Linked DNA regions of Homo sapiens: regions 1 and 3 are each linked to region 2. The links come from fine-mapping of genetic effects on gene expression. A gene starts in region 2. Each other region holds a variant in brackets. All regions are shown on one strand. Distances are from middle to middle. Region 1 has its middle 19 kb from the start of LINC00955. Region 2 holds the start of LRPAP1 (LDL receptor related protein associated protein 1). Region 3 overlaps LRPAP1 (LDL receptor related protein associated protein 1).

Evidence for each region.
Region 1: its variant is fine-mapped to the expression of LRPAP1 in whole blood (TOPMed, PIP above 0.99).
Region 3: its variant is fine-mapped to the expression of LRPAP1 in lung (TOPMed, PIP 0.98).

Annotation. Positions count from the first base shown.
Region 1 is chr4:3,553,429-3,561,606 of GRCh38, reverse strand. No RefSeq gene overlaps it. Among named protein-coding and RNA genes, the nearest start is that of LINC00955, 19 kb to the left of the region's middle. The variant G/A (reference allele first, on the strand shown) is at 4,412.
Region 2 is chr4:3,528,829-3,537,006 of GRCh38, reverse strand. LRPAP1 (LDL receptor related protein associated protein 1) reads left to right here and starts at 4,585. Exons shown (of 8, transcript NM_002337.4): 1 at 4,585-4,798. The coding sequence starts at 4,595. RefSeq lists silencers at 4,346-4,405, 4,846-5,095 and enhancers at 4,596-4,805, 7,963-8,178.
Region 3 is chr4:3,506,342-3,514,519 of GRCh38, reverse strand. It overlaps LRPAP1 (LDL receptor related protein associated protein 1), which reads left to right. Exons shown (of 8, transcript NM_002337.4): 8 at 1,484-8,178. The coding sequence ends at 1,546. Among named protein-coding and RNA genes, the nearest start is that of LRPAP1, 22 kb to the left of the region's middle. RefSeq lists an enhancer at 4,472-5,671. The variant AC/C (reference allele first, on the strand shown) is at 4,534.

The DNA.
Region 1 (8,178 bases), 25 kb before region 2:
GACCAAGGCAGGTGGATGACGAGGTCAGGAGCTCGAGACCAGTCTGGCCAAGATGGTGAAACCCTGTCTCTACTAAAAATACAAAAACTTAGCCATGCATGGTACCATGCGCCTATATTCCCAGCTACTGGGGAGGCTGGGACAGAGAATTGCTTGAACCCGGGAGACGGAGGTTGCAGTGAGCCGAGATCGCACCACTGCACTCCAGCCTGAGCAACAGAGTGAGACTCTATCTCAATAAAATAAAATAACAAAAAAAAAAAAAAAAGCAAACTGTACCCTGACCACTTTGGGCACATGTCGTCAAGACCTCCTGAGGCTGTGTCACAGGCCCTTACTTCACCTTGGCAAAATAAGTGTTTTAAATTTATTGAGACCTGTCTCAGATATCTTTTGGTTTACAACCTGATGGAGGAGTTGGCACTGATAGAAGGGTTTTGGGTTTCCAGCACCTGCCTTCATGCCTTACTTCTCGGTGGGCTCAGGACTCAGAATGGAAAAGAGTCCCAGGAGACCCCAGTAGCTCTTCAACTCTTTTACTCTCGCTGTTTTCTCTCCTTTACAGCAGACACCACTATCTGCAAAGGGTCCTGTTCGCTGCTTCTGCCTGCCAGGAAGCACAGCCTAGAGGGCAGTGTCCATGACTGTCCTGAGTAACCACTGGGTCCCCAGCATCTCAGCTTCACAGCTGTTCCGTAATGACCTTCAGATGGAGGGACGAGGCGGGTGGGTGGGGGGATGGATGGATGGATGCATGGATGGGTGGATGGGTGGATAGGTGAGTGGGTGGGTGGATGGATGAGTGGGTGCATGGGCAGGTATGTGGATAGATGGAAGTATGGGTAGATGGATGGGTGGATGGATGGGTCAATACGTGGATGGGTGGGTGGGTGAATGGGTGGATGGATGGATGAATGGATGAGTAGATGGATGCATGAATGGATGGTTGGATGGATGGTGGATGGATGGGTGAGTAGGTGGATGGACAGATGGGGAATGGATGGATAGATGAACAAATAAGTGATGGATGGGTGGGTGTATGGATGGATGGGTGGGTGGATGGGTGGGTGGGTGGATGGGTGTGTGGGTGGATGGATGGATGTGTAGATGGGTGGATGGATAAGTGGATGGATGGGTGAATGGGTGGATAAGTAGATGAATGGGTGGGTGGAGAAATACATGAGTGTGTGGATGAATAGGTTACAGAGTAAAATGCCACCACCAGAGCAGTGCAACAGCGTGCTTTGCACTCAGCTCTGCCATGGAAAAAGTGGTTCCTTCCCAGGCTCTCACCAGGCTCACATGGGCTCCAGACCCCTGCACCCCCAACCAGACTGGGGACACAGGGACTGTCTGCTCAGATCTGCATCCATGCACCTGGCCAACACCAAGTGAGTCACAGGGAACCAGGTGGCCTGAGAGAAGGACCGATGACAGATGGCCTCACCCATGTCGCCAGGAGGCTTGGGTCCCAGTCCTGTGGCCCCACCAGCCAAGAGCTTGTGGACATTCAGAATCAGGCTTGCTGGTTTAAGCCCGGGCATGCAGCACCAACATTGTCTGCCCATGGGCTCTCTGGGTCGTGCCCTGCCTGACTCAGTCCCTGCATCACCAGTGCCAGGCCAGGCACAGACAGGCTCAGTGGGGTGGGCTAAGTAGTGCTGGGGACCCAAACCAGGCATCAGAGGGATTGAGATGCCCCCAGGCTGACTCCCACTCAAGCGGGTCCCCCCGCCTCCCCCCGAGCCCATCCCCTCTGTCCACCTGCTGCCACTCTGACAGCTACAACCAACCCAGGCTCGGGGCTGCCTGGACTCTGCCTACAACTTCACAGGCTCACTCCCATGCTGTCCTTCACACCTGGAGAAGTGCCAAGGTTACCAGTGCCACAGAACAAACAGCCGCATGCACTCTGCACCCTGCTCAGCCATTGAGACAGCAGATTCTGTAGCTTTGGGCAGTTCCCACATCCTTCCAGTCCTGATCTTTCCCCTGGAAGCCAAGGAGCATTCAGCGCCTTCTCTACGTGCTCTTGGCCCCTGTCCACAACAAAGGCCACAGGTCTCTTGTTGTGGAACTATGAGTGAACCCAGCGTTCTCCCCAGGGACCCCAGCACAAAACAAGCTCTCAACACACATGAGTGAATAAAATTGTCCCAGAAAGCGGGAGACTTTACACAGTGGCTACAATGTCCCTAGTACACTGCCACAGTCCAGAAGGGAGAGAAGGGGCTGTGCACACCAGGAAGCCAGAAGCCCACATGCACCTGCACAGGGTCTGTGCATGGAGCTCCGGCAGGTCCAATCTCTTGGCCTTCAGAATAATGATGTAAATACAGGCACAAACATGGAGCAGGCGCCACTCAATGTGCAAACCCTCCCCCTTCTTCTGGTGAGGCCAGAAGTACCTAGGTAGGAGCAGCCCCTACCTCCGACCACCTCCCTCCCTGCAGTGGGAATAGCAGCCCAATCCCCAGGCTGCAGGGATCCACAGGCTGTGCAAGTGTGGCTGTACCCCAGCATGCCCTGGTGCGAAGCTGTGCCCAGGGAGATGTTATCTGCACCCCAGACTGCCTGTGGTGCTGCAGAGTGGTGCCGAGGACGGAGCAGGGCACACCTGGAGTCTATATCACCTGCCTTCCCTAGGGAGTCTTGGGCCCTCTCCACATTCAAGGCGAGGGGAGCAGGGGATCTCCACGAAGACCCCCTGAGCACCTCCCTTCTCTTTTTGCTGATAAATAACCCAAGGCTTAAGGGGTTTTGGAACCAAGACATGGTCACTGATGTTAGAGGAATGGCTCGCTCTCCCTCCTAGCATCCCTACCAGGTAAGGGGGGGCAATTGGTTGCTCCAAGCACCCTGGTTGCTGTAGGAAGGAGAATGGAGACATCGGGCTGAGCCCACTGGCCTCCTTCAGCGCTCGGGCTCTCCCCTGCAGACAGCCTTCCTCAGCAGCCGCACAGCTCAGGGCTTCTCCTCCCTGGGTGCCAGTAACCCCAGGTAAGCCTCTGGCTGCCCGGCAATTCCAATACCCAGAGGGAGGAGCCAACAGGGCAGGCCACGTTCTCACCAAGCCATCTGCAGAGGGGTCAGGTCCACCCTGAGTCCTCCCTTCTCAGTAACAAGCTGCTACTGTGTTTTCCATTGTCCCACAGCTGATTTGTCAGTCAGTGCAATCACAGCGAGGACAAACACTAATGCCCCTCCTGAGACCTCTCTTCCGGCTGATGGTGTGGACCTTGACTCCACAGCAGGTGTCTGCAGGCCCTCCAGCTGGCCCTCGGTAGCCTGGAGTGGCTCATCCTGGACAGACTCACCGCTATGACGCAGGGGGAACTGCCAGGAGTCCCTGAGCGAGGTGATCTGAGAAATGCCATGGCAGTGTTCTAAGCCAGCAGCCTGGCTTACTCACAACCTCTCTGCTGTGTGACCTTGAGCAAGTGCCTTAACCTCTCTGAGCCTCAGCTTGCCCCTCTGTTAAAGAATGATCATATATGACACCTAACAACGTTATGTGGAGTATCAGCAACAAGGAATCCACTGCAGCCAGTGTTGCAGGTGCAACTGGCTGGGGCTGGTGTCACGGGTGGTAAAAGAATTTACCGAGACAGTCGTGGGTAAAGAAAGTCTGAAGACACCTTGCAAGAGAACAGCAGGCAGCATGGCAGAGAGAAGGCCACCTCCCCAGGGGCAGGGGCCAGGGGGAAGTTTGATAGGGTCACACTGGAGAGGCGACATGCAGACAGGGTCATGCTGGAGAGGCCACATGCAAACAGAGTCACACTGGAGAGGCCACATGTGGATACAGTCATGCTGGAGAGGCGACATGCAGACAGGGTCACTCTGGAGAGGCCACACGCAGACAGGGTCACGCTGGAGAGGCCCCACGCAGACAGGGTCACGCTGGAGAGGCCCCACGCAGACAGGGTCACGCTGGAGAGGCCCCACGCAGACAGGGTCACGCAGGAGAGGCCCCACGCAGACAGGGTCACGCTGGAGAGGCCCCACGCAGACAGGGTCACGCTGGAGAGGCCCCACGCAGACAGGGTCACGCTGGAGAGGCCCCACGCAGACAGGGTCACGCTGGAGAGGCCCCACGCAGACAGCATCACGCTGGAGAGGCCACATGCAGACAGGGTCACTCTGGAGAGGCCACATGCAGACAGGGTCACTCTGGAGAGGCCACATGCAGACAGGGTCATGCTGGAGAGGCTACATGTGGAAACGGTCACACTGGAGAGGCGACATGCAAACAGGGTCACGCTGGAGAGGCCACATGCAGACAGGGTCACGCTGGAGAGGCCCCATGCAGACAGGGTCATGCTGCTGGAGCTAACGTGCAGAGTGAGGTATTTGGTAACATGAGGTTGTGCAAGCGGGCTGCTTGTGGTTAGCCATTTCTTAGAACAAC[G/A]GCTCTCCCCGACCCTAGTTCATGTTCTTGCCAGCTAGGGCCTGTGGTGCCATGGAGCTGTGCAGAGGAGGGAACCCCTTCCTCATTTCTATCAGCTGATCGGGACTCCACAGTTTGGTTTCGCTGCATATGACAATCCCAGCAAAAGAAGCATAAACAAGAAAGAAGCTGATTTCTTTCTGAAGGGAGAATCTGGGGATGACTGATTGAGGGTGAGGTGGCAGCTCCTCGATGTCCTCAGGGACCCAGATCCTGGCTGTCCTGCTCCTCGTCCTCCACGCATAGTGTCTAGCCTCAAAGCCACTCCATGGTCCAAGGTGGCTGCTGGTGCTCCAGCCATCAAGACCACAGGACAGGTGGAAGAAAGCTGGAAAAGTACAGGGCAGAAAAGGGCCCCTCCCAGAAGTCCCAGCTGAGTCAGCTTGTTTTTGAGCCATCTTCCTGGAAGTCTCCTACAGCACTTCTGCCTTTAACCCACTGGCCACGACTTAGCAGCTCGGCTCCACTTAGCCTCAGGGAGGAGGCTGGGAGATGCAGGTTTTCATTCTGGCCAGCTACATGCCCCACGACGCATCAGGGTTCTGCCTCCGCGGAGGAAGGGAAGAGGACCATGTCTGTACAAGGGGAGCTAGACCCACGATAAACATGAGCCACGCTAATGTTGTCAGCATCCCCAGAACAGCCGGCAACACAGCCTCACATCACACCCAACCTCCCGCCAGCCTCCAGCCCTGGGCAGCGTCCTCACTGCACCGCAGCCTAGAGAGGGAGCCAGAGTGCAAAAGGGACAGAAAGGGAGAGAACCGGAGGCCACGCTGACCCGAGCAGCCAGGGACAGAGGACAGACCCGGGAGGCAGATGGGAGTTCAGGGCAAGGAAAGTCTTGGGGGCTGCCTGGGGCGGGGGGAGGGAGATGTGGGGGGCAGAGGTAGGGGTGAGCTGCACCTGGGAGGGAACATGCACCCTCTTCCTAAGGAGACCCTGAGAGGCTCAGGGGAGACGGTAGCATGCAACAGCACCTGCTGCTCCCCTCTGCAGGAGGCCGACTCCACGGAGGACCATGCTCTGGCAGAGGAACCCAAATATGCATTTTTCCCACACCTCAGCCTCTCCTGGCCCCAAGGCAGGTACAGGCTCAGAGCTGGGGAACCGGCTGGAGATTTTCCTCTTTTTGCTGACTCTGCCCTGGCATATTCTGAGATACAGGGGTCAAGACTTCAACATATGAATTTGGGAGTCACAGTTCAACCCAGCATGCTATACAGATCTCAAGGGTGTCACTCAGGGAGTTGACAAAAGCGGACTCCACCAAGATAAGAACCTGACCACCCCCGAGATATGCGCTCATCAGTCCCCACTGCACCCCCTCCAGAGGCGACTTTTCATTGCAGATCAGCGTGACCTGTTCTAGAGCTTCCTACAGGCAGAGTCAGGCCGCACTGGCCCGCCCCAGCTCTCAGAGGCCGGCCATCACTGTGCACCCACACACCACCAGCTGTAACCCAGGCACAGGACCTCAAGGTGGGCTGGCTCAGCTGCCAACAGGAGCGAGTGGTGCTGAGGTCCTCCCAGGAGCCGTGGCCCAGCACCTCCTGGCCGGAACAACCATCCTATTCAAATAAACGAGTAACAAGAATGGGCACGCTCTCCACTTCCAAAAGCAATGCTGGCCGGGCGCAGTGGCTCACGCCTGAAATCCCAATGCCAGAGGCGTGTGAACCAGAGCAACTCCATCTTGAACAGGAGCTGGGTAAAATGAGGCTGAGACCTGCCGGGCTGCATTCCCAGGAGGTTAGGCATTCTAAGTCACAGGATGAGATAGGAGGTCGGCACAAGATACAGGTCATGAAGACCTTGCTCATAAAGGAGGTTGCAGTAAAGAAGCCGGCCAAAGCCCACCAAAACCAAGGCGGCCACGAGAGTGACCTCTGATTGTCCTCACGGCTCATTATATGCCAATTAGAATGCATTAGCTGCTAAAAGACACCCCCACCAGCACCATGACAGCTTACAGATGCCATGGCAATGTCTGGAGGTTACCTTATAAGGTCTCAAAAGGGAGGGGAGGAGACCTCAGATCCTCTTCATCCCTTTACTTTCCTGATAAACTTGCTCTCACTTTACTCCGTGAACTCGCTCCAAAGTCTTTCTCGCATGAGATCAAAGAGACCTCTCTTGGGGTCTGGATCAGAGCCCCCCCTTTTCCAGTAACACCAGCACTTTGTGGGAAAGACAGAGGCGGGAGGATTGAGTGAGGCCAGGAGTTCAAGATCAGCCTGGCCAACATAAGGAGACCTAAGTGTCTAACTTAAAAAAAAAAAAAAGGCCAGGCACAGTGGCTCACGCCCAATACTTTGGGAGACCAAGGTGGGCAGATCACTTGAGCCCAGCAGTTCGAGACCAGCCTGGACAACATCGTGAAACCTTGTCTCTACAAAAAAAAAAATAATAATAATACTAAGAAATTCCCGGGCACGATAGTGTGCACCTGTAGTCCCAGCTATTCAGAAGGCTGAGATGGGAGAATCGCTTGAGCCCAGGAGGTAGAAATTGCAGTGAGCTGAGATTGTGCCACTGCATTCCAGCCTGGGTGACAGAGGGAGACCCTCTCTCAAAAAAATAAAAAAAGAAACCCAGGCAGGCATGGTGGCATGCACCTATAGTCCCCAGCTGCTCCGGAGGCAGAGGCAGCAGAATTGCTCGAGTGCAGGCTGTAGGTCAAGGCTCTAGTGAGTTACGATTGTGCCACCGCACTCCAGCCTGCGTCACAGAGCAAGCTGCAGTCTTAAAAAATAAAAATAAAAAATAAAAGCAGTGCTATTCTCCTACAAATGAAGAAATCTCATCAGACAAATACTGCCACAAACCAGATGAAAATCATGATCTAATATTCCAACAAGAACTTCAGCTCCGAAGGGAGACTACAGCACAGAATAAGAACAGAGGAGAATAAGCACAGAATAAGAACGCAGGGAAGAGGTGGCCAAACGGCAGCGGAGTCTGTGGTAGGAAATGACAGAATTCAGGAAGGAAACTGAAGAAAAAGACAAAACCATTTCAGAAATGAAGAAATGAAGTTACAGGTAATACGAGAGCAGAGACACCACGAAAATCATGTAAAAAAGGAAAAAGTGAGCAAATGGAAAGAAAGAGGAAAGAGATTAAAAAGGATTAGAGAGAAAGTGACTATAAAAGACCAGTAAAGGGCCGGGCGCGGTGGCTCCCGCCTGTAATCCGAGCTCCGAGCTCTTTGGGAGGCAAGACAGTTGGATCACAAGGTCAGGAGTTCAAGACCAGCCTTGCCAAGATGGTGAAACCCCGTCTCTACTAAAAATACAAAAATTAGCCGGGCATGGTGATGTGTGCCTGTAATCCCAGCTACTCGGGAGGCTGAGGCAGGAGTATCACTTGAACCCAGGAGGCAGAGGTTGCAGTGAGCTGAGACTGTGCCATTACACTCCAGCCTGGCAACAGAGCGAGACTCTGTCTCAAAAAAAAAAAAAAAAAAAAAAAAAAAACAGTAAAGGGGCTCCAGCGTACACATACGATAGGCAAAACTAACAGATCAGAACAATTGACTACTTGATTTATGTGAGAGATGATCTCATATAAGCTAGCGTTGCCCAGGCTGGCCTTGAACTTCTGGCCTCCTGAGTAGCTGGGACCACAGGTGTGCACCACAGCACCTGATGAACAAGGATTGAAACTATCATTCAAGACCTCTTTTATTGAAATGCAGGCAGACTTGCGCCTGCCTGTAAAAGTGC
Region 2 (8,178 bases):
GGAAAACAACTCTGTATACAGCATGTATAAAGAAAAGCAAGATATATTTGGGGAGATAAAAGTTGTAAAGGCATTAAGATGTGTGTTTGTTGAGAAAAAATAAATTTGTGCATTTAAGAAGTTAAAAAAAAAAAAAAAAAAAAAAAAGAGTGCCCTGGCAGAGGAGGAAGTCCATTCAGATGGCTGGGGGGCCCTCAGAATTTTATTTTTGGTTTACAAAAAGTTTAGGATATGGGGGACGTTGCTCATGGCTGGTCAGGAGCTCGAGAGTGGAAGGGTTTGAGGGAACTGGGGATGGGGGAAGGGGTCTGAGAAGGGGATTTACAGAGCTGTCTGGGGCAAGGGGTGGCCTGGGGGGACTCGAACTTTCCATACAGAGGGAGAAGCAGCATAATGAGCTTCATCCTGGGGTCTACAGTGGCAGACAGTGGGGAAAGCAGTGACAGGGAGTTTGCCAGCAGAGGAGGCAGCTGAGGGTGTCTTACTCAAAGACCCTCCCTGAATGCTGGGAGCTGGGAAGGGGTTGGTTTTGCCCAAGCACATGGGGTCTCACTTGTCTTCAGGCAATGGTGGCTGCCTGAGGATAGCGGAGGCTCATTGCCCTAGGCCAAGTGGGAAAACTGCCTCACCCAGAAGGTCACACCCTCCCCCACAACCCAGTGCCTGATTGATGAGGGGAGGGAGAGGAGACACAAAATGGTCCTGGCCTCAAGGCAGGGACAGCCGTGAGGTGCAGTGCTCCCGAGCTCCCCTTCATCCAACCAGGCTGAAGCAGTCACAGCCTTGCTCAGCTCTCTGCACCGGCTCTCTACCCCCACTCTCCTTTCCTAGGAGCACCCCTCCATAATCACCTCCACAGGAATTCCATCTCAGCTCTGCTTCCAGGAAACCTGACCCAAGACAGAGGTTGTTGCAAGGGCAGAGGCCACAGGCATCTACACCAGCCTCTGTGCGTTCAGTCTGTGAGCGGCCCAACGCTGCCCATGTGCTCCTCCTTAAAGCCTACTCAACCCTGGGGTCTACAGGCAAATTCCTCGCGGGCACCTTCCCTTGTCCTGGCTGCCGCTCTGCTTCCTTTGCAAGCTCCTTCTCGCACCCTTGCGCTGGCTCCCTCCAGAGGGCTCCATCCCCTGCCCACTGTGCCTTCGTGGGTGGTGCCCAGATCTCTGTCTCCTCTGCCCTGGACCCCTCTGCCCCTGACTGGCAGATCTATAGAGTTCAGTGCCCCTGGAGGGCTCCACGTCCATCCCACAGGGACCCGGACTCTCATCTTCCTCCTGAGCGTGCTCTCCCTGGAGACCTGGCATTGGAATTCGCCCTGCCACCTTCTGGTCTCCCCAAGTGGAAACCTGGGCGTCAGTCTGGACGCTTGTCACCAAATTCTGTCCCTTCCACCTTCACATGGCCTCTCCATCTTCACTGCCTCCGTGTCTCTATCTCATCCCGATCACCTTCGCCTCTCCTCTGGCGGAGAGCACCAGCATTCCCACTGGTCTCTGCTTTTCCTCAAACGCATCTCTGTGTAACTCTCCCCTCAGGATCACTCTGTGGCCCCCATTGCTCTGGGTGGAATCTTCCTTCCAGTGGCGTTTCAGTCCCCTGGGTCTGCCTCACTCTTCACCACCGTCTTGTGCTTCTGCACTGAGCTCCAGCCAGACCACCTGCCTGCAGCCACCTGGCGCTACCTGTTCCCGTGTGCTTCCTGCCTTTGCCTGGAGAGAATAACAATCTATAGTCCAAACTCAAGGACAAAAACAAACTGCTTTTTGGCCGTGGTGGCATGAAACCCCAATAAGTCAATGACAATGCTGCATGCTTCTGAAAGCCGGCCAGTCAGGGACAGCCCCACACTACAGAACAGGCCCAGGCAGCAAGAACCTTGTGCCCCTGAAGTCAGGCTGAACACTCTCACTTCTGAAAGCTGGACAATCCTCAATGCCAGGCTTCCCAAGAGACTCAATTTGTTTTGCTCTGAGAGATGGTCCTATAAGCACAGTTCCCCTTTTCTCTCGTAAGCAAGATACTCAGCTTCAGCACTGACCAGCCTCACAATCCGTCCTCACCAAGTGGAGGGCCCTCCCTCCGGGTTCCTCCACGGCCGTATCTGTCTCTGTTCATACACCTTCCCCTCAGCACTTAGAGACACGGGCTGGCATGGCGGGTGCTGGCGGCAGGGGTGAGAAATAAACTTTCAGCCCTAGAGGAGGAGCCCAAGAGGAGAGCATGCCGTCACCTGGAGTCTCTGGTATGTGCCTGGCACCTGTACTGATTGCATTAACCACTGTGATTTTTTAGAAGATGTACTAGTTTGAAATGTATAATACATACGGAGAAGTGTATGAAATATGTACAATTTAAAGATAAGGAAAAATGCATGCCTGTGTGCCCACCACCTAGTGAAGAACTACAACCTGGACACCACTTTGGAAGCCTGTCTGTGTTCACCCGTCGCATTCTCCCTCCTCCCCCAGCCCAGGTATCCTCCATCCTTTAGCCATCCCCTGACTTTCTTTAGTTTCATTGCCTGTGTATGCAGCCACGAATAAAATATTGCTTAGTTATCTGGGAAACCGGGCTGTATAGGAAAAGGGCTCTTAGAACCCCACACCACTGTCAGATGCAGGATCCCAGAAGACTCTGCTCCCAGTCCAGCTTCCAATTCCTGTGGGTTTATAACGGGCCTTTCTAGAGACACTGGGGGCAGGATTCACAGAGCTGGAACATTTGCAGTTAGGACCACATTCCAGATGACCAACAGGGACATGCTTGGGGGGGATAGGCCAATTTGGACTATCCCCTTCTAAGCCCACCAAGACCTACCTGTAGCTCTCAGGAGTGGGGTCAGGGCAAAACATGTATGTGGGGTAAAACAGGTGACCTCTGATTCTAGGCACCAGGAGATGGAGAGAAGAGCAGGAACGAGGGAACACAAGGGGAAGGCAGGCACAGGTGAGAATCTAGGCCAGGCTCACCTGGCCATTCTGTCCTGAGGCTTAAAAACATGCAATGATGGCAATGACAGCATTTGATCTGTCTCTGGAGTCACTTCGCATGAGGTCATTCTCCCTCCACCACCCTCCTGGGGGATTCCTTTACCTCCTCTCCCCCATACATCCCATATTGGGAACTTGTGCTTCCAGCTAAGATGCAGTAACAGACTGAATTTACCCTCTTGCCTGAAACAACTCAACAGCTGGAAAAAAAGAAATGAAACGATGGCTCTGAAAATACTAGAAAAGCAGCACAGGACAGAAGCAGATCACCTTGATTCCAGGGACCTGAAATCTTCTCTGGAACAACACAAGATACAATTTAAATGTAAATTAGGGTAGGCCCAGTGGCCCACGCCTGTAATCCCAGCACTTTGGGGGACCAAGACGGGAGGGTTGCTTGAGCCCAGGAGTTGGAGAACAGCCTGGACAACATAGGGAGACCTAATTTCTACCAAAAAATTTCAAAAATTAGCTGGGCGTGGTGACACGCACCTATAGTTCCAGCTACTTGGGAGGCTGAGGCAGGAGGATCGCTTTAGCCCAGGAGGTCGAGGCTGCAGTGAGCCATGATCATGCCACTGCACTCCAGCCTCGATGACAGAGACCCTATCCCCCCACGCAAAAAAAGGAAATGAATTAACATTAATTCCTCTCAAGATGCCCAGGCTCTATTCACCCCCTTTGTCATTGTCCCTCCAGTTGGAAATTCCTCCCTCCCCCCGCAAAATCCCGCCCACCCTTGGAGGCCTTTTCAGATCATTCTTGCCAGATGAGCTCCCCTTGTCCCTTCTCTGAGCCCAAAGGGGCCCAGCTGCTGTCTGTCTCCCTCCTTCCCCTTGTTTCCCGCGCTACCTCCAGGGCACTTCCCAACTCACTGGCCAAGCCCCCAACGAGCGGTCTATGCTAACTTTGGCTCTGTGAATTTCCTAGAGTGTCATGGGTTGGGGAAAAGCGCGCGAAGTCCTGCCTTGCAGCAGGCGCGAGAGCAGGCGCTTGGGACGCGGGTTGGGGCAGGGGCCCCGGGACGTAGGGGGACGTCTGCGCGGCCCTGCGTCCCCGGGACAACCTGGCCTGGGCTTACCCACGGCCAGGCGCTCCGCGGAGGGCAGAAGCGGGCTGGGCCAGGCTCCTCAGCGCCAGGCCCGGGCCGCAGTGCCAACCCCGCAACGGCACTGGACATGCAAGAGTCGGCGTCAGTGCGCGTGAAGCCGGAGCATTATCAGGCTCAGCCAAACGCGGCCCGGTTCTTGGGCTTTCCGCTCTTTCTGTGGGGCAGAGAGGGAAAGAGGCCTCGAGTCGTGCGGGCTCCAGGCTCCGGGCTCTGGGTGAGGCCTGATCCCTGCTCCCACCCGGCCACCCTCATTCTCCAGTTGTATCCCCTGCCAGAGTCTGCAGCCTCGGGCCGCGGCGTGGTTGCCTGGGAAACGCTTGCGCCTGCGCAGGGCTTCCTAGGCGCTGGAGTCCGCCGGCGGCCTCGCCGCTGCCGGCCGCTCACGGAGGAACTACAATTCCCAGGAGACCGCGCGGTGGGTGGGGGCGGGGTAGTGGGCGGGGCATCGGCAGGCTAGGTTTTCTCCGCGCAGCGCCAGTCGCAGAGGAAGATGGCGCCGCGGAGGGTCAGGTCGTTTCTGCGCGGGCTCCCGGCGCTGCTACTGCTGCTGCTCTTCCTCGGGCCCTGGCCCGCTGCGAGCCACGGCGGCAAGTACTCGCGGGAGAAGAACCAGCCCAAGCCGTCCCCGAAACGCGAGTCCGGAGAGGAGTTCCGCATGGAGAAGTTGAACCAGCTGTGGGAGAAGGCCCAGCGAGTGAGCGCGGCCCGCGGTCGGTGGAGCGGGGCCTGGGGGCGGGGGCCGTGGTTGGGGTCGTTGGAGCGGGGCCCAGGGGTCGGAGGCGGAGGGGGGCGCAGCCGGGGCACCTGTGCCCTACGCGCCCTGTCCTTGGCACAGCCTCCCCCAAGTGTCAGGTGGGGCGCCCCGACCCCTTCTGCAGCAGGAAAGGTACCCGTGCCGGCGACGACGCCGTGTGAAGCAGGTGGCGGCCGGCACCCCGAGGGTCAGTGTCGCCCTCCCCAGCCTGGGCGGCCTGCTGACCCGAGCGTAGGGACAGAACCAGGCTAGATCACAGGTCTCCTGCCTCCCGAGCCTTTGCCTGTTCCCTCAACCTTATCTCCCTATGTGGGGAAACAAGAAAAACAAAATGTTGGGTAGAAAGACGTGTCCAGGGACAGAAGGAATCCCAGTAGCAAGCCCGTGCTTGTTCATTTGAGCGAGAAATGAGGAGGTGAGGAGATGGGATCGGTTTAGAGCACATAAAACGCGACCTTGGGAATGCTGAAAGTCAGTCTTAACAGGGCGCTCACCTGACCTCTCCTTCATTTGAGAGATGAGGGTACGGAGGCCCCGAGGGGAAAGGGCACCCCCAAGGTGGCTCGGCCGGTGGGGCCCCCCGGGACAACAGCTTCCTAATTGGTGCGTGACCCTGGGCCAGCTGCTCTCTTCATTAAGATACGGTTGCTTCATTTGTTAGGTGTTCCTGAAAACACCTGAAATGGGTGTTTTCGAACTATGCCGACCATCTGGGCCTCATTATCTCATCTCAAATGCAGGAGTCAGATTAGATCTCTGTCTCAATAGTCCAGTTTTAAGCATTCCTGAGTCTTTGAGAGGGAAAGTAAGTGATTTGCAGAATAAGAAGGAACTTTTGGAACGAAAAGGGAGAGGAGAAACAGGTGGGGGACAGACAGACGACAGACGGTTATAAGACTGCGTGGGGATGGGGATTGACGCCTGGGCATCAGCTCCACAGGCCCTTCCTGAACTGCTCCTGGGACCAGCAGTCAAGCCCCAGGCGTAATGTTCAGCCTGCGGAGGTGGGAGGTGGGAGAACGCTCTGGGCTGGAGCGGCAGGGCGGCTTCTTGGAGGAAGGGATTCTGGAGGGGCTGGGGACACGGCTGGGTTTGGATGTGTTGATGGCCTCCCAGCAGCAGGGAACAGGTGTGACCAGGAGCAGCCGGGATGCAGTGCTGCCTCCCCGTGCCCACTGCACTGGGCATCTGTTGAGTGGGTGGAGTCCCCCCTCCCCATGAGGAATGGGGAGCCCGAAATAGACTCCCTGACCGATTGGAGGTGGCGCTGAGGAAGTGCACTCGGACCCAGGAACCCCAGCGGCTCCCTTTTGGGTGCTGGCCCAAGTCTTCCACCTGCTCTGCAGGGCCGCCCTGGTGCGCTCCACCTTACCTCCAGCCACCTCCAGCTGGTCCTCTGTCTTTGTCAGCCCAGGCCTCCTGCAGCAATACACCTGCCCTCAGGCTGCCCCTGCACTGGTCCAGCTACCCTCGGGCTGCCCCTGCACTGTCCCCCGGTGCTGGGTGCTCGCCTGACCAGTTTCAGTCTTGGGTTGGGTCATGTCTCCTAAACCTCCCTGAGGTTCACTGGGCACCATGGTAGGGCGAGCTGCTCACCTCCACTTTGGACTGAGCCTTGGACTAGATGATCTTTCTGGTCCCTTTAAGTCCTGAAGTTCTAGTTGTGTGGGCAAGTCTTTTTTGCTGAACAGAACGTGAAGTTCTTCGGGGGTGAGGGTGTTTTGGGGGATTTTGTGTGTCTTCCCCCATTCCAGAGAGCCTGGTACTATGGCAGGCAGGCCTGCAGAGCCCATTCGTCCTGATTTTCCTTCCAGATAACGGAAGCTTGGAGGGTGGCGGTGCTGTGAGGGTGTTCTATCCTGGAGCCAAGTGTGCAGGCGTCAGACCCGTCCGGGTCTTTTTGAGGTTCTCAGTGGCGGTAGTGCATCCCGGGTGGTCTTTGTGCTGTGGCTCTTTCTGCCGAGCGTGCCAGGGCCCAGGGTGGTCAGGAGGCAGGAGGAGCCACAGTCAGTTCAAACGTAGGGGGAGAGAATTGTTCGTGCAAATAGTCACTCCAGTCGGCTTCTTACCCCACCTGACTCGCCGCTCTAGGTAGGTATCAGACGGAGACGGGGTCTTGGATCGCCCCCTGGAAGATAATTGAGGTGAGGGCTGCTTTTTCAGAGAAGCACTTCCTGCCCGGCTCTGCAGCCACTGCTCTCAGCCTCCTGCGACCTGCGCTCAGCAGCCAGGACGGTCTTGTCCTTTCTTTGGTTTGCTTCATGAAAACATCGTGTCCCTGTTTTCTGCATGTAAAGCCACATCCTGGCATATAGGATTGCGTAGTGTGTCAGTAGGCATAGGGTGAAGGGAGCGTTTCAGGAAACCTTTGCCTTTGATGGGCTTGGGCTGTGAGACCTGCGTTGAGGTTGCCGCCAAGAAGATGCTGAGACCCGCTTTCATCAGGCGAGACCCGGCCAGGGGGGTGCTGCTTCATCCTCTCCAGCAACTTGAATCTTGACTTTCTGTGACTCTCCCAGTTCCTCTTTCACAGGCGGGCTCCACTGTGTTGCAAGACTCCTGAGCAGAGGCTGTCCCTGGAGCTTTGGAGGTCAGAGGCCATGCAGAGCCCTTGTGCTCACAGACGACTTCTGAGGACTCTGCCTCTTCAGAGCTCTGTGTGTTGTGTTGATGCTGAGGAGTAAGCTCCAGGGTCTGCATGGTCCAGCTGCGGCGCTCAGGGACACACTCGTGTACCTCTTGGCCTGGGCTGCACGGTGCCATGAGCTCGGAGTCCTTGGCCATAGGTCCTTAGTTTTTTTGGTTTTTTGTTTTTTTGTTTTTTTTGAGACAGAGTCTCACTCTGTCGCCGAGGCTGGGGTGCAGTGGCGTGATCTCGGCTCACTGCAACCTCCGCCTCCCAGGTTCAAGCGATTCTCGTGCCTCAGCCTCCTGAGTAGCTGGGATTACAGGCATGCACCACCATGCCTGGCTAATTTTTATATTTTTAGTAGAGACGGGGTTTCACCATGTTGGCCAGGCTGGTCTCGAACTCCTGGGCTCAAGTGATCCTCCCGCCTCTGCCTCCTAAAGTGTTGGGATTACAGGTGTAGTCCCAGGAGGCACCGCACGCAGACAGTCCTTAGTTCTGACGTGAATGGTGACTGCAATGAGAGTGTGTGAAGCATCTTGTTCTCAGAGGTCTGACGAGTGGAAACTGAGGTCTGCAGAGAGGAGCCCTCAGAGCCCCACCCCAGCTCTCAAGCGTCCCCCCTGGCTTGAGAAGGGCCTCTGAGGATGGGCCAGCCAGTGGCCTCCATGGGCACCTAGGACTCGCCAGG
Region 3 (8,178 bases), 22 kb after region 2:
GCAGGCCCCGGCGGGCCACTGCCTCGTCCTCCTGTGACCAGGATGGGGCGTGACCTGGATACCCACAGCCAGCCCATGAGTCAGGGCACTCTCCAGCCTTTGAGACAGGCGAGCCTCCTTCCCCACAGCCCCTGGGATGTGAGGGGAGGAGGGGCAGAGCCCAGGAGAAGCTGAAGCCAGCGCACAGCCTTGCCACAGAGGCACAGAAAACCCTGGAAGCTCATGCCAAGTTCTTTCTGGAGGGAGCTGGGGCTCAGGAGCCCCATCTGTGCCTTTTAAACTTTGAACTGCAGGCATGTGTTACCGATTCAAAAATAGCAAAGGCCTAAAAAATAAATGAAGGTAGAAGTTCTGATAGGAGAGGGTGGTGCGGGTCTGCCTGGCAGAATGTGCAGGAGAGCAGCCTGTGGCCCTTGCCCGTGGGCAGGAGCTCAGGTCCAGGGTGAGCACCACCATGTGGGGTTTGCAGGGCGCTCCCGCGAGACGCGGGGATGGAATGCTAGCGTGCACCTAGCTTCACCTGACCACGGCAAAGCTCGGTGTTGGTTAAGAAAGCCGTGTGGCACTGCCTGAGGCACCCGCACCGTTGGGGCAGAGGTCAGGGCCGCTGAGAGAAGGGACCTTCGGTGAGTTATTCACCCTGAGCCACGGGCTTCTATGTGGAGAGGGAGGTGGCGCCCACGAGCAGGGTTTTGTGAGAATCTGGGGAGAGCTACAGTGACCCCAGCCCAGGCTGGGCTGACGCAGCACCTGCTGCCACTGGGGTGGTATCTGTGGGGATGCTCTGGGCTGTTGTGATGTGAGGAGCTGGAGGTCCCTCTCCTTCCCTCCCAGGCCCTGAGGAGGAAGGCGCCTTTCCCAGAGCTCTGTCCCAGTCTCTCTGGTCATTGCTTTTAAAAATAACACTGTGGGGCTGGGCACAGTGGCTTACACCTGTAATCCCAGCACTTTGGGAGGCTGAGGTGGGTGGATCATCTGAGCTCAGGAGTTCGAGACCAGCCTGGGCAACATGGTAGAACCCCATCTCTACCAAAAGTAGAAAAAATTAGCCGGGCGTGGCGGTGGGCACCTGTAGTCCTAAGTACATGGGAGGCTGAGGTGGGAGGATCACTTGAGCCTGGGAGGCAGAGGTTGCAGTGAGCTGAGATCATGCCACTGCACTCCAGCCTGGGTGACAGAGCGAGACCCTTTCAGTAAGTAAATAAATAACACCATGGGCCTATCACAGAGACCCTGAGCTTTCCACTTCAGCATGAACTGCTCCTGGCTGGTGGCTCTTAGCGTTCTTTGGTGGGATTTTCTAGTTAGTACTGAGCTGCTTTTGTGATTTGAGCATTTCTGGATGGGTGTGGAATTGGAAAGTCAGATGTGCAGGGCTTGCGCCTTTTCCTTTTGGATCGCGCGTCTCCTGACATGAGGCTGAGCTCACAGAGCTGGCCTCGAGGCGCGCTGTCCCCAGCTGATGAGACGTTTCTGTCCACAGGTGAAGAAGCATCTGCAGGACCTGTCCGGCAGGATCTCCAGAGCTCGGCACAACGAACTCTGAAGGCATTGGGGAGCCCAGCCCGGCAGGGAAGAGGCCAGCGTGAAGGACCTGGGCTCTTGGCCGTGGCATTTCCGTGGACAGCCCGCCGTCAGGGTGGCTGGGGCTGGCACGGGTGTCGAGGCAGGAAGGATTGTTTCTGGTGACTGCAGCCGCTGCCGTCGCGACACAGGGCTTGGTGGTGGTAGCATTTGGGTCTGAGATCGGCCCAGCTCTGACTGAAGGGGCTTGGCTTCCACTCAGCATCAGCGTGGCAGTCACCACCCCAGTGAGGACCTCGATGTCCAGCTGCTGTCAGGTCTGATAGTCCTCTGCTAAAACAACACGATTTACATAAAAAATCTTACACATCTGCCACCGGAAATACCATGCACAGAGTCCTTAAAAAATAGAGTGCAGTATTTAAACCACCCGCTTGTTGGCTGGTCACTAAGTGTCCTGGTGGCTGGGGCCGGAGCCAGTGCTCTTGAAGGGATCGCGTCATAGCCAGCTTCCCCTCTGGGCCCTGTGGGTCTTTGCAGCCAACCTCCTTTTCCCGTGAGACGGCCCGGCCTGATTTAAAGCCAAGAGCGCTTGAGTTGAGTTTGAGGGGAAGATGTGGAGCGTGTGGTTCTGTGGACAGTCAGAGACTGTGGCCTGGGGGCAGCGTCTTTCAACTCTCACCTCTGCAGCTCAGGGACCTCGGGAGACCTCACCAAACCTGCAGGGCCTCCGTGTCCCTAAGTGTGCTGTGTAAATGCCCCATCTCATGGGGGAGAGACAGCCACGGAGGCCTTCCTCTGACCATAGCTGATGGACTGGCGGTTGCTCAGGTCCGGCTCCGAGAATGTTCCTGTGTCTGAGCCTGGAAGAGGCTCGGGTCTGGCTCCAGGCGTGGTTCCCTTCCCGTGTCTGAGCCTGGAAGAGGCTCGGGTCCGGCTCCGAGCGTGGTTCCCTTCCCGTGTCTGAGCCTGGAAGAGGCTCGGGTCCGGCTCCGAGCGTGGTTCCCTTCCCGTGTCTGAGCCTGGAAGAGGCTCGGGTCCGGCTCCGAGCGTGGTTCCCTTCCCGTGTCTGAGCCTGGAAGAGGCTCGGGTCCGGCTCCGAGCGTGGTTCCCTTCCCGTGTCTGAGCCTGGAAGAGGCTCGGGTCCGGCTCTGGGCGTGGTTCCCTTCCCGTGTCTGAGCCTGGAAGAGGCTCGGGTCCGGCTCTGGGCGTGGTTCCCGTGTCTGAGCCTGGAAGAGGCTCGGGTCCGGGTCCAGCTCCGAGCGTGGTTCCCGTGTTTGAACCTGGAAGAGGCTCCACCAGGCGTATTGTGTTTTGACTGCAGCTGGATCTTGGCTTGACTGTTGAGATCTGCCAAACATCCGCTAAGCTATCATTTCTGAGAAAGGTCAAGGCTAGAGGCAGCATGTCGGGAGTTGGCGCATCAGGGTTGGAAGGGCCCCAGGGTACAGCATGTGGGTGCCTGTTCCTTTGTGGACTTGTGTGTGTGTGGCTGGTGGGGCGGGGGGTGGATTCTGGTTCTTTTTTTTCCCATTATCCTGAGAGCCTTAAGGTACTCAGTGTGTTGGTGAGACTCAGCCCTGTCATCTAGCAGAAGTGTGTTCCTTTTCATTGCTGTATAGTATTCCATTGCATGACTGTCCTGTGCTCTGATTTTAATGCACTTTATTGTGGGTGGATATTTGAGTTGCTTCCTTTCTGGGGTAATAACACTCACTTGGAAATAGCTGTGGTGAACACTCGTGTGGGGGTGGGGGTGGGGGCCAACTCTAGGAGCACCTAATGGATCTTACGAAGCGTGTTGTCCAAGTATAGAGATGATTCCAAAGTGGTTGGACTGTGTTTCTTTCTCCCAGCTGGGTGGAAGGAGAACACTAGTGGATTGCTGAGACTTGGTGCTCGGTATTTTTAATTATGGACAGCCTGGCTGGCGTTTTGTGGTGTCTAATTGCGGAGTAGCGTGTCTTACTGTATAATGGCCTCTTTTGTATGTGGGAGACCATGGTGTTGAGGGGAGGCAGTTACACAAAAAACCCAGATACCGAGTGTTAGTTCCATGGGTGTGGCTGGTCATGGTGCGCACTCACGAAGGATGTAGGTGATGCCCTCCACTCCGCAGAGCCAGTCCCACAGGGGTACCCATTCTGACTCCTACCACCGCAGCTCCCTACCTCCCGCCTGCCATGGGTTCCACGTGCATGGCTCTGGGCAGTCTGTGTCTTTGCGTGCGTCTGTGTATGTCTGCGTGTATCTGCTTACATTCGCTCAGCATCTGAGATTCACCCAGGCTTTTGCGTGGATCAGCGGCAGACTCCTGATTGCCGCGTGGCGGCCTGTTGTGTGGGTGTGTGCCGCGTGTGTATCCAGTCCCTACTCAGGAGTGTACGTTTCCAGTGTGGGTTGCAGTCAGGATCCATTTCTCCCTTAACTTTCAGATTATTTGCTGCATAGGCTTTTTTCTCCTAATTTGGCGCCTTTGTCAGAAATCAACTGACCTACCTGTGTGGGTCTGTTTCTGTTTGTCCTTACGCTCTTGCCATTGCCACACTTTAGACAAGGTCTTGCTCTGTCCCTCAGGCTGGAGTGCAGTAGCGTGATCTCAGCTCACTGCACCCTTGACCTCCCATACTCCAGCAATCCCCTCGCCTCAGTCTCCTGAGTAGTAGCTGCGACCACAGGCGTGTGTCACCACACCCGGCTGATTTTATTTTTTTTATTTTTATTTTTTTTGTAGAGACGGGGTTTTACTATGTTGCCCAGGCAGGTCTTGATCTGGGCTCAAGTGATGCTCCTGTCTCAGCCTCCCAAACTACTGGGATTACAGGTTGTAGGTGTGAGCCATGGTGCCCGGCCGCCACACTGTCTTGGCTACAGTTGGGTTTATAATAAACCCTGAATCGAGGTGATGTGCATTTTCCAACTCTTCTTTTTAAAGATTCTTGTGGCTGTTTATGTCCTTGGTGTTTCCATATATGTTTTACAATCAGTGTCTCAATTTCTACCAAAAAA[AC/C]ATGCCTTCTGGAATTTCAATAGCAATTCCCTTGAACGCATTTTTGAATACCTTTTCTGAATGTCTTGAATACATGTTGGGAAGAATCGGTGTCTTAACAGTCTCCAGTGTCCACGCGTTGACTGCCGTGTGTGACTCCAGTCGGCGTCTCAACAGTCTCCAGTGTCCACGCGTTGACTGCCGTGTGTGACTCCAGTCGGCGTCTCAGCAGTCTCCAGTGTCCACGCGTTGACTGCCGTGTGTGACTCCAGTCGGCGTCTCAGCAGTCTCCAGTGTCCACGCGTTGACTGCCGTGTGTGACTCCAGTCGGCGTCTCAGCAGTCTCCGGTGTCCACGCGTTGACTGCCGTGTGTGACTCCAGTCGGCGTCTCAACAGTCTCCGGTGTCCACGCGTTGACTGCCGTGTGTGACTCCAGTCGGCGTCTCAACAGTCTCCGGTGTCCACGCGTTGACTGCCGTGTGTGACTCCAGTCGGCGTCTCAACAGTCTCCGGTGTCCACGCGTTGACTGCCGTGTGTGACTCCAGTCGGCGTCTCAACAGTCTCCGGTGTCCACGCGTTGACTGCCGTGTGTGACTCCAGTCGGCGTCTCAACAGTCTCCGGTGTCCACGCGTTGACTGCCGTGTGTGACTCCAGTCGGCGTCTCAACAGTCTCCGGTGTCCACGCGTTGACTGCCGTGTGTGACTCCAGTCGGCGTCTCAACAGTCTCCGGTGTCCACGCGTTGACTGCCGTGTGTGACTCCAGTCGGCGTCTCAACAGTCTCCGGTGTCCATGCGTTGACTGCCATGTATGACTCCAGGTATTGAGTTCATCTTCAACTTCTCCCAACAATGAACTGGAGTTTTCTGTGCATGTGTCTGGCATGTTTTCCTTTAGATCTAGTCCTAGGTGTTCGATATGCTATTGAGGACTGTGTATTTTTATTTCATTTGTCACCTGTGCGTGGTGCTTTAATCCTGTGCCCTAAACTCCCGCCTTGGCCATGGCGGTGTTTCTGTGGACTCGTGGGGTTTCCGTGTGCACACGCGTGTCCTCTGTCTGACAGTGGCTTTGCTTCCCCTTGTCAGTCTGTGCCTCGGCTTCTCACTGCACTGGTGAGGTGAGCCGGCGCTCGCTAATCTTATTCCCAGTCTCGGTGAACATGGGCTCAGTCTCTCCCGGCTCAGTGTTGGGTTTGCACTGGTGCACTTACAGGCAGAAGAGCTTCCTCATTTGCTGAGGGCTTTTCCTGAATCCGTGTTGAATGTGGTCAGCTGCCTTTCCTGCACCTAGTGAGATGCTCATGAGGTCACTTCCTTACCGCATTACTGTAGTGAATTACGCTGACTTTCATATGCCAAGATGACCTGGCATTTCCAGGTAAGTCCCTGTGGCCATGGTGCATTGGCCTTTTCTCTGCATGGCCAGATGAGATTTGCTCATACCGGGCTAAGGACCTCCTGTGTAGGAATGCTCTTGAGGGACACTGGGCTTGGATGTTCATTGTCTTGTCATGTGATGTGTCTGTCATGGTTTGATATTGCATTAAGTGGGCCTCCTGAAACAAGTTCTGCCATAGTTTGTATAGGATTGGCATTATTTGTTTCATAGAGATGTGATGGGTGAGGCCATCTATGCCTGCCATTTTCTTTTTGCTTAGGTTTTTCATTAAGAACTTGATTTTTAAAAATAGACATGAGGCCTGGCATGGTGGCTCACGCTTGTAATCCCAGCACTTTGGGAGGCCAACGTGGATGGATCACCTGAGGTCAGGAGTTTGAGACCAACCTAGTCAACATGGTGAAACCCCGTCTCCATTAAAAATATAAAAATTAGCAGGGTGTGGTGGTGCATGCCTGTAATCCCAGCTACTCTGGAGGCTGAGGCAGGAGAATCACTTGAACTCAGGAGGTGGAGGTTGCAGTGAGCTGAGATCACACCACTGCACTCCAGCCTGGGCAACAGAGCGAGGCTCTGTCTCAAAAAAAAAGACATGAGGCTTTTGGATTTTCTGTTTCTTCCTTTGTCATTTTTTTAAAGATAGGTTTGTCGCAGAATTTCATCTAAGTTATCAAAACAATTTACATAAATCATTCACAGTATCCTCTGTGCAGTGATGTCCATTCTCATTCCTGCTCTGGGCCATTTGTGTTTTCTTTTCCCCCTGATCAGACTAGCTAAGAGTTTATCATTTTTACAGATATTTTCCCCAAAGAAACCTACTTTTGGGTCCATTGATTTTTTTTTTCTATTGTTTTCTTTTTCATTGACTTTTGCTCTTTTCTTATGAATTTCCTTTCTTCTACCTATTTTGTGTTCAATTTGCTGTCCTTGTTTTAGGTTCTTTTGATAGAGGCTTAGATCATTGATGAAGAATATGAAAGAATGGGATAATACAGTTAAAAACTTGGTCTACTTATGCCCATTAGAGAAAACATTCTTAAGCACGCATGGAATCTTTTAAAAATGGACGAGGTACTAGGACCCAAAGCAAATGTCAGTAATTCGCAGATGATAATGTATAAATATATGATATGTAGGTAAATAATACAAATCACATTCTTTGGCCAGAGTGCAATTGAGGAGGAAATCAGTAACAAAAAGACAATTAAATCCATTTGATTCTTTTGTTTTCGTTTTGTAGTAACTTGCACTTCCCTGGTGCCAGAGGCATGACACCTTTTTGTCTGCTCTTGGCCATTTGGGTGGCGTCTTTGGGAAGGGCCTACTTAATTCTTTTGCCTATTTAAAAAACTGGGTCTTGGAAATCTTGTCTTTTTTTTTGAGTCAGGATCTTTCTCGCACAGGCTTGGAGTGCAGTGGTGCGATCATAGCTCACTGCAACCTCAAACTCCTGGGCTCAAGCGAGCCTCCCACCTCGGTCTTCTGAGTAGCTGGGACTACAGGCATGCATCACTATGCTCTGCTAATTTAAAGAAAAGGTTTTTTTTATAGAGACTGGGTCTCGCTGTGTTGCCCAGGCTGGTCTCGGAGTCCTGGTCTCAAGTGATTCACCTGCCTCCACCTCGCGGAGTGCCAGGATTACAGGTGGCGGGAGCCGCCACACCCAGCCTGGTCTTAGCGTTATTCCCAGGTCTAGGTGTGAGTCCTTCCTCAGATATGTGTTGTGAATAATTTCCGATCCTCTGGCTTGCTATTTTACTTTCTTAATGGTTATCTTTTGGAAAGCAAAGGTTTCCAGTTTGATGAAATCTAATTTTTATTTTTTATTTTTCCGTTCTAGTGGTCTTTCTATTTTCTCATCAAATTGAGACTTTGGGGAAACTACACAGCAGCAAACCAGGATATATCCTCTTAAAAACAGCTCGAGCCGGCCGGGTGCGGTGGCTCATGCCTGGAATCCCAGCACTTTGGGAGGTGGAGGTGGGCGGATCACGTGAGGTCAGGAGTTTGAGACCAGCCTGGCCAACATGGTGAAACCCCATCTCTACTAAAAATAAAAAATTAGCCAGGCATGGTGGCAGGCACCTGTAATCCCAGCTACTTGGGAGGCTGAGGCAGGAGAATGGCTTGAACCTGGGAGGCAGAGGTTGCAGTGAGCCGAGATCGCGCCATTGCACTCCGGCCTGGGGACAAGAGCAAGACTTCGCCTCAAAAAAAAAAAAAAACCCAGCTTGAGCCAAGTGTGGGTGGCTCCCGCCT